2 linked regions of the Homo sapiens genome follow. The protein of the gene in region 1 binds, or shares a complex with, the protein of each later gene. Each region holds a gene or a part of one and is shown on either strand. Other genes may lie near its edges.

Evidence for each region. Proteins that work in one complex are often made in the same cells at the same time.
Region 2: NUP43 (region 1) and NUP37 share a complex: the UniProt entries of both Homo sapiens proteins name them as parts of the nup107-160 subcomplex of the nuclear pore complex.

Annotation. Positions count from the first base shown.
Region 1 is NC_000006.12:149,729,514-149,736,564, reverse strand, and holds part of NUP43 (nucleoporin Nup43), read left to right. Parts: coding exon 1-94; intron 95-4,829; coding exon 4,830-4,952; intron 4,953-5,801; coding exon of another isoform or gene 5,802-5,932; exon of another isoform or gene 5,933-7,046; coding exon of another isoform or gene 7,047-7,051. UniProt on the Homo sapiens protein: Component of the Nup107-160 subcomplex of the nuclear pore complex (NPC). The Nup107-160 subcomplex is required for the assembly of a functional NPC.
Region 2 is NC_000012.12:102,072,586-102,075,148, forward strand, and holds the end of NUP37 (nucleoporin Nup37), read right to left. Parts: intron 2,510-2,563; coding exon 2,416-2,509; intron 1,883-2,415; coding exon 1,769-1,882; 3' UTR 518-1,768; downstream 1-517. UniProt on the Homo sapiens protein: Component of the Nup107-160 subcomplex of the nuclear pore complex (NPC). The Nup107-160 subcomplex is required for the assembly of a functional NPC.

The sequences.
Region 1 (7,051 bases):
GTAGCTACTGGTGGCCAAGATGGAATGTTGAGTATTTGGGATGTTAGACAAGGTACTATGCCTGTATCTCTGCTGAAGGCTCATGAAGCTGAAAGTAAGTATTGTGAAGATACAGAAAGTTTATATTGGGTGAGTTATATGACATATAATAAGCACCTTTCCATAATGATACATGTGGATCATTTTACATCATAGCTTTTAATGGCTGAATTGTGTAAATTTAAATAGTTATGTAATTTCTTTTTACTCGACATTTAAGTTCTTTAACATTTGTTTTTGTTTTTTTGGAGACGGAGATTCACCCTTGTTGCCCAGGCTGGAGTGCAATGGCGCTATCTTGGCCCACCGCAACCTCTGCCTCCTGGGTTCAAGCGATTCTCCTGCCTCAGCCTCCCGAGTAGCTGGGATTACAGGCATGCACCACCACACCTGGCTAATTTTATATTTTTAGTAGAGACTGGGTTTCTCCATGTTGGTCAGGCTGGTCTTGAACTCCTGACCTGAGGTGATCTGCCCAGCTCGGCCTCCTAAAGTGCTGGGATTACAGGCATGAGCCGCCGTGCCTGGTTTTTTTTTTTTTTTTTTTTTTAAAGAGACAGGGTCTGGTTCTGTCGCCCAGGCTGGAGTGCAGTGGTGCAGTCACGGCTCACTACAGCCTTGACTTCCAGGGCTCAGGTGATCCTCCCGCATCAGCCTCCCAAGTAGATAGGACTATAGGTGTGTGTCACCATGCCTAGCTGATTTTTTGTTGTTGTTTGTTTTTTTTTTTGTAGATATGGGGTTTCACTTTATTGCCCAGGCTGGTCTCAAACTCCTGGGCTCAAGTGATCCTCAGGAAGTGCTGAGATTACAGGTATGAGTTATGAGCCACCACATCAACCACAGGTTTAATTCTTATATCCAAAACTGTAGTTAGAATCCTTAGATATTTATCTCTGTGTGTGTTTTTTTTTTTTTTTTTTTTTTGGAGACAGGGTCTCTCTCTGTTGCCTAGGCCAGAGTGCAGTAGTGGTGTGATCATAGCTCATTGCAGCCTTGAACTCCTGGACTTACACGATTCTCCCAAAGTGCTGGGCATAGCCATTATGCCCATGCCCAGCCTTATGTACTTATTTTCTTAGGATAATTTTTTAGAAGTAGAATTGCTAGGCCAAACATTTTGCATAGCGCATTGACAGATTTTTCTACACAAAAATAATACCAGTTTAAGCCAGGCACATTGGCACATGCCTGTAGTTCCAGGCTCCTCCTACTCAGGAGCCTGAGGCAGGAAGATTGCTTGAGCCTGAGAGTTTGAGGCCAGCTTAGGCAACATAACCTCTTTAAAAAGTTAATAATACTAGTTTAATCCAGGTGAGTGGCATGCACCAGCTTCTCAGGAGGCCGAGGCAGGAGGATTGCTTGAGTCCAGGAATTCAAGGCTGTAGTGCATTATGATTGCACCTATGCACTCCAGCCTGGACAATATAGTGAGACCCCACTCCCTGAAAAGTGATAAAAATCATACCATTTTATATGCCATAGTGAAGTGTGCAAGAATGCCCTTTTCCCATGCAAATGCAGGCTGTCATATTTGTTAATAAATGTTGTGCTCCTCAATTTATTGTTGCATCACATCATTTTTTTTAACATGAACAATAGATTTATAAGCTTTTTTTTTTCTTTTGATTCTGGTGGAGATGATTTAGCCGGACAGAAATTTTTCATTTTCTCACTCTGTCTTTGATATCATGCCAGAATGGATTATCCTTTTTTTTTTTTTTTTTTGAGACAGAGTCTTGTTCTGTCGCCCAGGCTGGAGTGCAGTGGCACAATCGCGGTTCACTGAAACCTCTGCCTCCTGGGTTCAAGCCATTCTTCTGCCTCAGCCTCCCTAGTAGCTGGGACTAAAGGCATTTGCCACCATGCCTAGCTAATTTTTGTATTTTTAGTAGGAATGGGGTTTCACCATGTTGGCCAGGCTGGTCTCAAACTCCTGACCTCAGGTTATCTGCCTGCCTTGGCATCCCAAAGTGCTGGGATTACAGGTGTGAGCCACTGCGCCCGGCCCTATATATTTTTTTAAAAATGGGGTCTCTCTCACCCAGGTTGGAATGCAGTGGCATGATCACAGCCCACTGCAGCCTCAGCCTTGCCTCCCTGGCTCAATCAGTCCTCCCACCTCAGCCTCCCGAGTAGCTGAGGCTACAGGCACGCACCCCTACTACACCCGGCTAATTTTTTATTTTTTGTAGAGACAGGGTCTCAATATGTTGCCCAGGCTGGAGTGCAGTGGCATGGTACCTCACTTAAGCCTCAACCTCCTGGGGTCAAGTGATCCTCTTGCCTTGCCCTTCTGAGTAGCTGGGACTACAGGTATATGCCACTACACCTAGCTAATTTTTTTTATTATTAGATTTCTATAGAAATTATGATTCCATAAAAGATTTTGAGGAAATGATGGCCGGGGGCGGTGGCTTATGCTTGTAATCCCAGCACTTTGGGAGGCCGAGGCAGGTGGATCACCTGAGGTCAGGAGTTCGAGACCAGCCTGACCAACATGGAGAAAGCCCGTCGCTACTAAAAATACAAAATTAGCCGGGCGTGGTGGCACATGCCTGTAATCCCAGCTACTAGGGAGGCAGAGGCAGGACAGTCACTTGAACCTGGGAGGCAGAGGTTGTGGTGAGCCAAGATCGCACCATTGCACTCCAGCCTGGGCAACAAGAGTGAAACTCCGTCTCAAAAAAAAAACAAAACAAAACAGATTTTGAGGAAATGAGGAAGACTGGTATCTTTCAGAATTGAAAGTGATTTTGGAATATATAGAATTTCTTTGGGGCTGGGCACGGTAGTTCATGCCTGTAATTTTAGCACTTTGGGAGTCCAAGGCAAACAGATCTCTTGAGCCCAGTTGTTTGAGACCAGCCTGGGCAACATGGAGAAACCCCATGTCTGTTAAAAATACAAAAGTTAGCCAGGTATGGTGATACATACCTGTAGTCCTAGCTACTCAGGAGGCTGAGATAGGCGGATTGCTTAAGCCTTGGAGGTCAAGGCTGCAGTGAGCCATGACCATGCCATTCTGCACTCCAGCCTGGGCGCCAGAGCAAGACCCTGTTTCAAAAAGAGAGAGAGAATTTCTTTGAGTTGAATTATGTAGAAGTTTGTCACTGACCTATGTTCCTAAAGTATGAAGCATACATATGTGGGCTAAGAAATAGTTTTTCTTGATAAATAATCAACAAATAAAAAATAAAAAGCCCTCCATCTGAGACTGGATCCAAATTCTTGGAACATTTCCAAATTTTGGTTTGGTAGAAGTCAGTTGCTATTTCTGTGATAAAGACCAGAAGTATTCAGAATCTTGGCATTAACCAATATTGGATATTGCCTCTTAGAAATTCATTTTTATATTTCATTAGGATCTTTCTCAGTTTTTCCAATAATATAATCTTCATATATTAATGACACAGGAATTGAAAAATAAGACAACTTACCAATTTAAAAAAAAACTTTTCCGTAAAAGACAGTCATTCCTAGCTGGGCACACACCTATAATTCCAGCACTTTTGGGAGGCTGAGGCAGGAGGATTGCTTGACGCCAGGAGTAGAAGACCAAGGTAGACAACATAGCAAAACCCTGTCTCTATTTAAAAAAATAAAAATAAAATAAAATAAGCTTTTTCATAAAGTAATAGGGTTAAATGTTTTAGCAATGATTTTCTTTTCTTTTTTTTGAGACGTAGTTTTGCTCTTTTTGCCCAGGCTGGAGTGCAGTGATGCAATCTCAGCTCACTGCAACCTTGCCTCCCGGGTTCAAGCAATTCTCCTACCTCACCCTCCCAAGTAGCTGGGATTACAGGCACCTGCCACCACGCCGGGCTAATTTTTTGTATTTTTGGTAGAGATGGGGTTTCACCATGTTGGTTAGCTGGTCTTGAACTCCAGATCTCAGGTGATCCACTCACCTCGGCCTCCCAAAGTGGTAGGATTACAGGCATGAGCCACTGCGCCTGGACATTTTTTTTTTTCCTTGAGACAGAGTCTCACTCTTGTTGCCCAGACTGGAGTGCAATGGTGTGATGTTGGCTCATTGCAACCTCTGCCTCCCGGGTTCAAGCGATTCTCCTGCCTCAGCCTCCTGAGTAGCTGGGATTATAGGCACCCACCACCATGCCTGGCTAATTTTTAGTATTTTTAGTAGAGACGGAGTTTCACCACGTTGGCCAGGCTGGTCTTGAACTCCTGACCTCAAGTGATCCACCCACCTTGGCCTCCCAAAGTGTTAGGATTACAAGCATGAGCCACTGTGCCTGGCTACTATTTTCATTTATTTCCTTGCCCAGTACGCAAATTTAGTTGGCTTCTTTTTCCTTTCTTTTCTTTTTTTTTTTTTTTTCTCAGACAGTGTCTCACTTTGTCGCCCAGGCTGGAGTGCAGTGGTGCGAGCTCGGCTCACTGCAACCTCCGCCTCCCAGGTTCAAGTGATTTTCCTGTCTCAGCCTCCTAAGTAGCTGGGACTACAAGCACGCGCCACCACGCCTGGCTAACTTTTGTATTTTTAGTAGAGATGGTGTTTCACCATGTTGCCCAGGCTGGTCCTGACCTCAGGTGATCCACCCGCCTTAGCCTCCTAAAGTGTTCTTTTTCCTTTCTATGTGTTATAGCCATTGGAAAGTTACATTATGTCTTTTCTTTAATTCTGAAGCCTTTAATTTTTAGGACAGACTTGAGGCTCGAAGGTATGTGATGGAGGATAATGGAAGATGATGCCTAGAGATGGGGGTTTAATGTTGTTTGTTCAGCGAATCTGCACAGGAATGAGCTTATTGATTCTTGTCTCTTAGTGTGGGAAGTTCACTTTCACCCATCCAACCCAGAACATCTTTTTACCTGCTCTGAAGATGGATCCCTCTGGCACTGGGATGCTTCCACAGATGTACCTGAAAAGTCGTCACTCTTTCACCAAGGTAAAACTTTTTAATGAATACTGTTATGTGTACTTTTTTTTTTTTTTTTTAAGACAGAGTCTCACTCTATCACCCAGGCTGGAATGCAGTGGCACGATCTCAGCTCACTGCAACCTCCGCCTCCTGGGTTCAAGCGATTCTCGTGCCTCAGCCTCCCGAGTAGCCAGGACTACTAGTCATGCACCACCGTGCCCGGCTAATTTTTTTGTATTTTTAGTGGAGATGGGGTTTCACCATGTTGGCCAGGCTGGTCTCGAACTCCTGACCTCAAATGATCCGCCTGCCTCAGCCTCCCAAAGTGCTGAGATTACAGGAGTGAGCCACCACACCTGGCCTTTTTTTTGAGACAGAGTCTTACTCAGTCACCCAGAATGGAGTGTAGTGGTGCAGTCTCAGCTCACTGCAACCTCTGCCTCTCAGGTTCAAGCTTTTCTTGTGCCTTAGCTTCCCTAGTAGCTGGGATTACAGGTGTGTGCCACCACAACTGGCTAATTTTTTTGTATTTTTAGTAGAGATGGGGTTTTGCTATGTTGGCCAGGCTGGTCTCAAACTCCTGGCCTCAAGTGATCTGACCACCTCAGCCTCCCCAAAGTGCTGGGATTACAGGCATGAGCCACTGTGCCCAGCCTGTTATGTGTAATTTTATCATACTTTTATTTTGTTTTTTTTTTGTTTGAGACAGCGTCTCACTCTGACATGCAGGCTGGACTGCAGTGGCATGATCACAGCTCGCTACATCCTCGCCCTCCTGGGCTTAAGTGGTCCTCCTGCCCCAGCCTCCCAAATAGCTAAGACCAGAGATGCTTGCAACCACAACCAGCTAATTTTTTTTTTTTAATTTTTTTGTAGAGATGAGCTCTCACTATGCTGCCCAGGCTGCTCTCAAACTCCTGAGCTCAAGCAATCTTCCTGCCTGGGCCTCCCGAGGTATTGCAATTATAAGCATGAGCTGGCTGTACCCAGCCATTTTATACTTTTAAATACCAAATTAGACATCCTCGTATTTTTTACTTAATGGCAAAACATTTTTATTCTCTTGCCTCAGAGTAAATTTGAGTATCACAGGGCTTGAAATCTGACTGTCAAGTTACTTACTACTGTATGGCTGATGGCTAGAAATGCTGTAAGCTGGCTCACTTGAGACAGCCAAGGTTCTCCTTTGTGAGTGCCATTAACCTGGACCCTCATGCCATAGCATAGACAGTGGCAAATCTTTCATATTGCATTGCCAAGTTTGTGTGAATGGCAAGAAAAAAGTTGATATTTGATGTAACTGAGGGTACTGGTTAAATGGCCTGATCTCAGGCCGGGTGTGGTGGCTCATGCCTGTAATCCCAGCACTTTGGGAGGCCAAGGCAGGTGGATCACCTGAGTTTGGGAGTTCGAGACCAGCCTGACCAACATGGAGAAACCCCGTCTCTACTAAAAATACAAAATTAGCCGGGTGTGGTGGCTCATGCCTGTAATCCTAGCTATTCAGGAGGCTGAGGCAGGAGAATTGCTTTTACCCAGGAGACAGAGGTTTCAGCGAGCCGAGATTGCACCATTGCACTCCAGCCTGGATAGCAAAAGCGAAACTCCGTCTCAAAAAAAAAAAAAAAGGGCGTGCTTTCCTCATTACAGTCAGTTGTAGGTTATGGTCAGCCAAAGACCATGCACTTGTAATCGGGGTTTATGTGTTTTTGCATTTTCCAAGTTTCCTGTTTTTGAGGGTTTGTCTGTGGCTCCAAAGTTCTTTTGCTTATTCATTTATTCAGAAATATTTACTGAATGCCTACCATGTGGTAGGCATTCTTCTAGGTGTTAGGACGTGTAACAGTGAGCAGAACGAAATGTCGAAACGCATAGAGCAAATATTCTAATAGTTAAAAAAATAGATAATGTATCAGTAAGAGTCCAATTAGAATGTCAGAAACTACCTTAGATGTAGAAGGAATTGGTCTCACATGTGTTAGAAGGGCTGGGAAAACAAAAGGTAATAGGAGGGGTGCTGGGAGAACAAATAGGAAGAAAAGGGAAAACCCAGAAATAGTAATTGTTAGTACCCCTGCTACTTGACTGTTGAAAATGCTGTAAAAGTTTGTTCTGAATTAGGAGAA
Region 2 (2,563 bases), on another chromosome or scaffold:
ATTCTTGTAAGAGTCACTATTGATAGCCCTTTGGCTATCCTGATGCTTTTAGGAATCCTTGCCCCATCACAGAGATTCTTAAAGAGAACCATGTCAAAATTCCTTGCTCTTTGCTTTTTCCTTTGTTAGTTCAAAATCTTCTTATGAAGGGGTAAACAAAACAATTTATATCATTTGGTTATAATATTTAACTGTATTAAAAAATTGACTAGGAAATTGCTATAAAATTTTTCATCTGTACTTTAAAGCATGTAAAAGTTGAACCCAAACATCTACATGGTTATAAAATTTCACTGAATTCTTTCTTTTAATTACCTGGAACATTCTCCTATCTCTTAAAAATATAATGTTCTTGATTCTACAATTATTTTAAGACACCTTAAGAATAGAAAACTGGAGTAAAAAATATTTACTGGCATTAAACATAAATCTCTAAAACCTCAAAAATAAGACCTACTCATCTCTGAAATAAATAATTTCTATACATCTCTGAACCACGTGACAGACACATACTAGGTATTTTCATTCACCTTTATTTAATCTTTACAGCAACTCCACAAAATAATGATTCCTATCTGTACTTTACAAGAGGAAATGAAGCTTCAAAAAGGGCATTAACTTGCAGGAATGGGCAGTTTGTCAAAATGTATTGGATTCTGTATGTGACTGACAAGCAGAACCATAATTTTATATGCTTCTGACTGTACCATGATGTATCCCAAAAATGTGATACAGCTGTCTTAGATAACGTTGATTTTAATGATCTTTGAGAGGGTGAACACAGTTCCATTGCCAACAGGTCCCATCTCAAAAACACTTAAGTTTCTTGGTAAGAACAGTGAAAATTCACAAAAAGGAGGCTGTTAAAGGTATACACTAGAAGTCATTTTTCAAGGTAACTTTTGATCCCATATATCAGATGTTCTAAGACTGTTAGAACACCTCGTCCAAAGGAATCTGCGTATAATAAACAGGGTTGAGCAATATAATCAATCACATATTTAAGAAACTGAAAACAATTTTTTACATTAAATTGAGTACACATACACATATATATACTCAACAACCACTTCCAGAATACCCTAAGATATTTTTTTCTCCTTGGATTTTTTTTCTTTTGAGATAGTCTCGCTCTGTCGCCCAGGCTGCAGTGAAGTGGCACGATCTTGGCTCACTGTAACCTCTGCCTTCCAGGTTCAAGTGATTCTCCTGCCTCAGTCTTCCAAACCATGCTTGGCTAATTTTTTTTATTTTTATTTTTTTAGTAGAGATAGGGTTTCACCATGTTGGCCAGGTTGGTCTTGAACTCCTCACCTCAAGTGATCCACTCCCTTCAGCCTCCCAAAGTGTTGGGATTACAAGTGTGAGCCATTGTACCTGGCCTTTTTTTCTCTTTTGATAAATGTGTCCCTGAGAATTAGAAAAACAGCATATACTCAAAGTATAGAAAACAGGATACACTTCAAATACTCCTTTTTTGATAAACTCAAAAGCATTATTTTTCCTTAGTCATCTCTTCTCTGGAGGTGAGCTGCTGAGTCAATATGATTTTGTAAGATTAAAAATATATATATATACACACACAGAGAACAGAGTAGAAAAATAATTTTTCAAACCATCAACATTTTATTTAATAAAAGCAACTGAGACATTTTCTAAAGTATACGGTATATTTGATATAAAAATTCTTCAAAATATGTACTATAGAAATTCTTCAAAATATGTACTAAAAATACAAAGTTTGTGAATCTAAGGTACAGAAAACACTTTATACTTCAGTCACCCAAAACAACAGCTTGTGGTCTCCTCCAATTACACACAGAGGGAGAGTTCGATGCCAGGACAGTCCAGATCCAACGGCTACAGAACCCATGAGGATGGGCTATAAAATATGTGAAGAATTAAAGAAGCACAGTAAGTCCCCAAAATTAATAAATAAAAATGACTTTCAAAAATATGAAATGCATTGATGATTTATCTTTGTAGCATAAACAAAATTTAAAAATATGCTCCCTTACAGGTGAAATACACATTATTGATACGCAGCTGAAACATGGGATACAATCCATCTATGAATAACTGGTACAGTCCAGACTCCATTTTTGCAGTCTACACCAACCAAACAAGCAAAATTAATGTATTTAAATAAAGAAGAAAATATAAAAGCAACAGAATAAAAAGCTTCTTATATGAATACTGGCCAAAAAAACCTGTTGTCACTGGTAATGTAAACATCAAAAAAAAACCACACAAAAAACAAAAACAAATGAACCACCTTTTCTTGCAATTTAAGCAGATAACAAACGTAAATGTCTTCAGTCAACAAATTACAAATTTGGGGCTATGAGTGGAAAAGTCAAAAACACAAATTAAAAAAAAAAAAAGCACGTATGTTACAAAACATTTCCACATTACCTGAGGGTGTCCTAAATGATGAATTTGAAACTGGCTTGCCATTTTGCCAGGATAACCAGTGGTTGCAAACAGATTTTCACTAATTGTGGACCACCTAAGAAATAAGGAAGCGTAAAATTAAGTATCGTATCCTATGGATAATGACAAG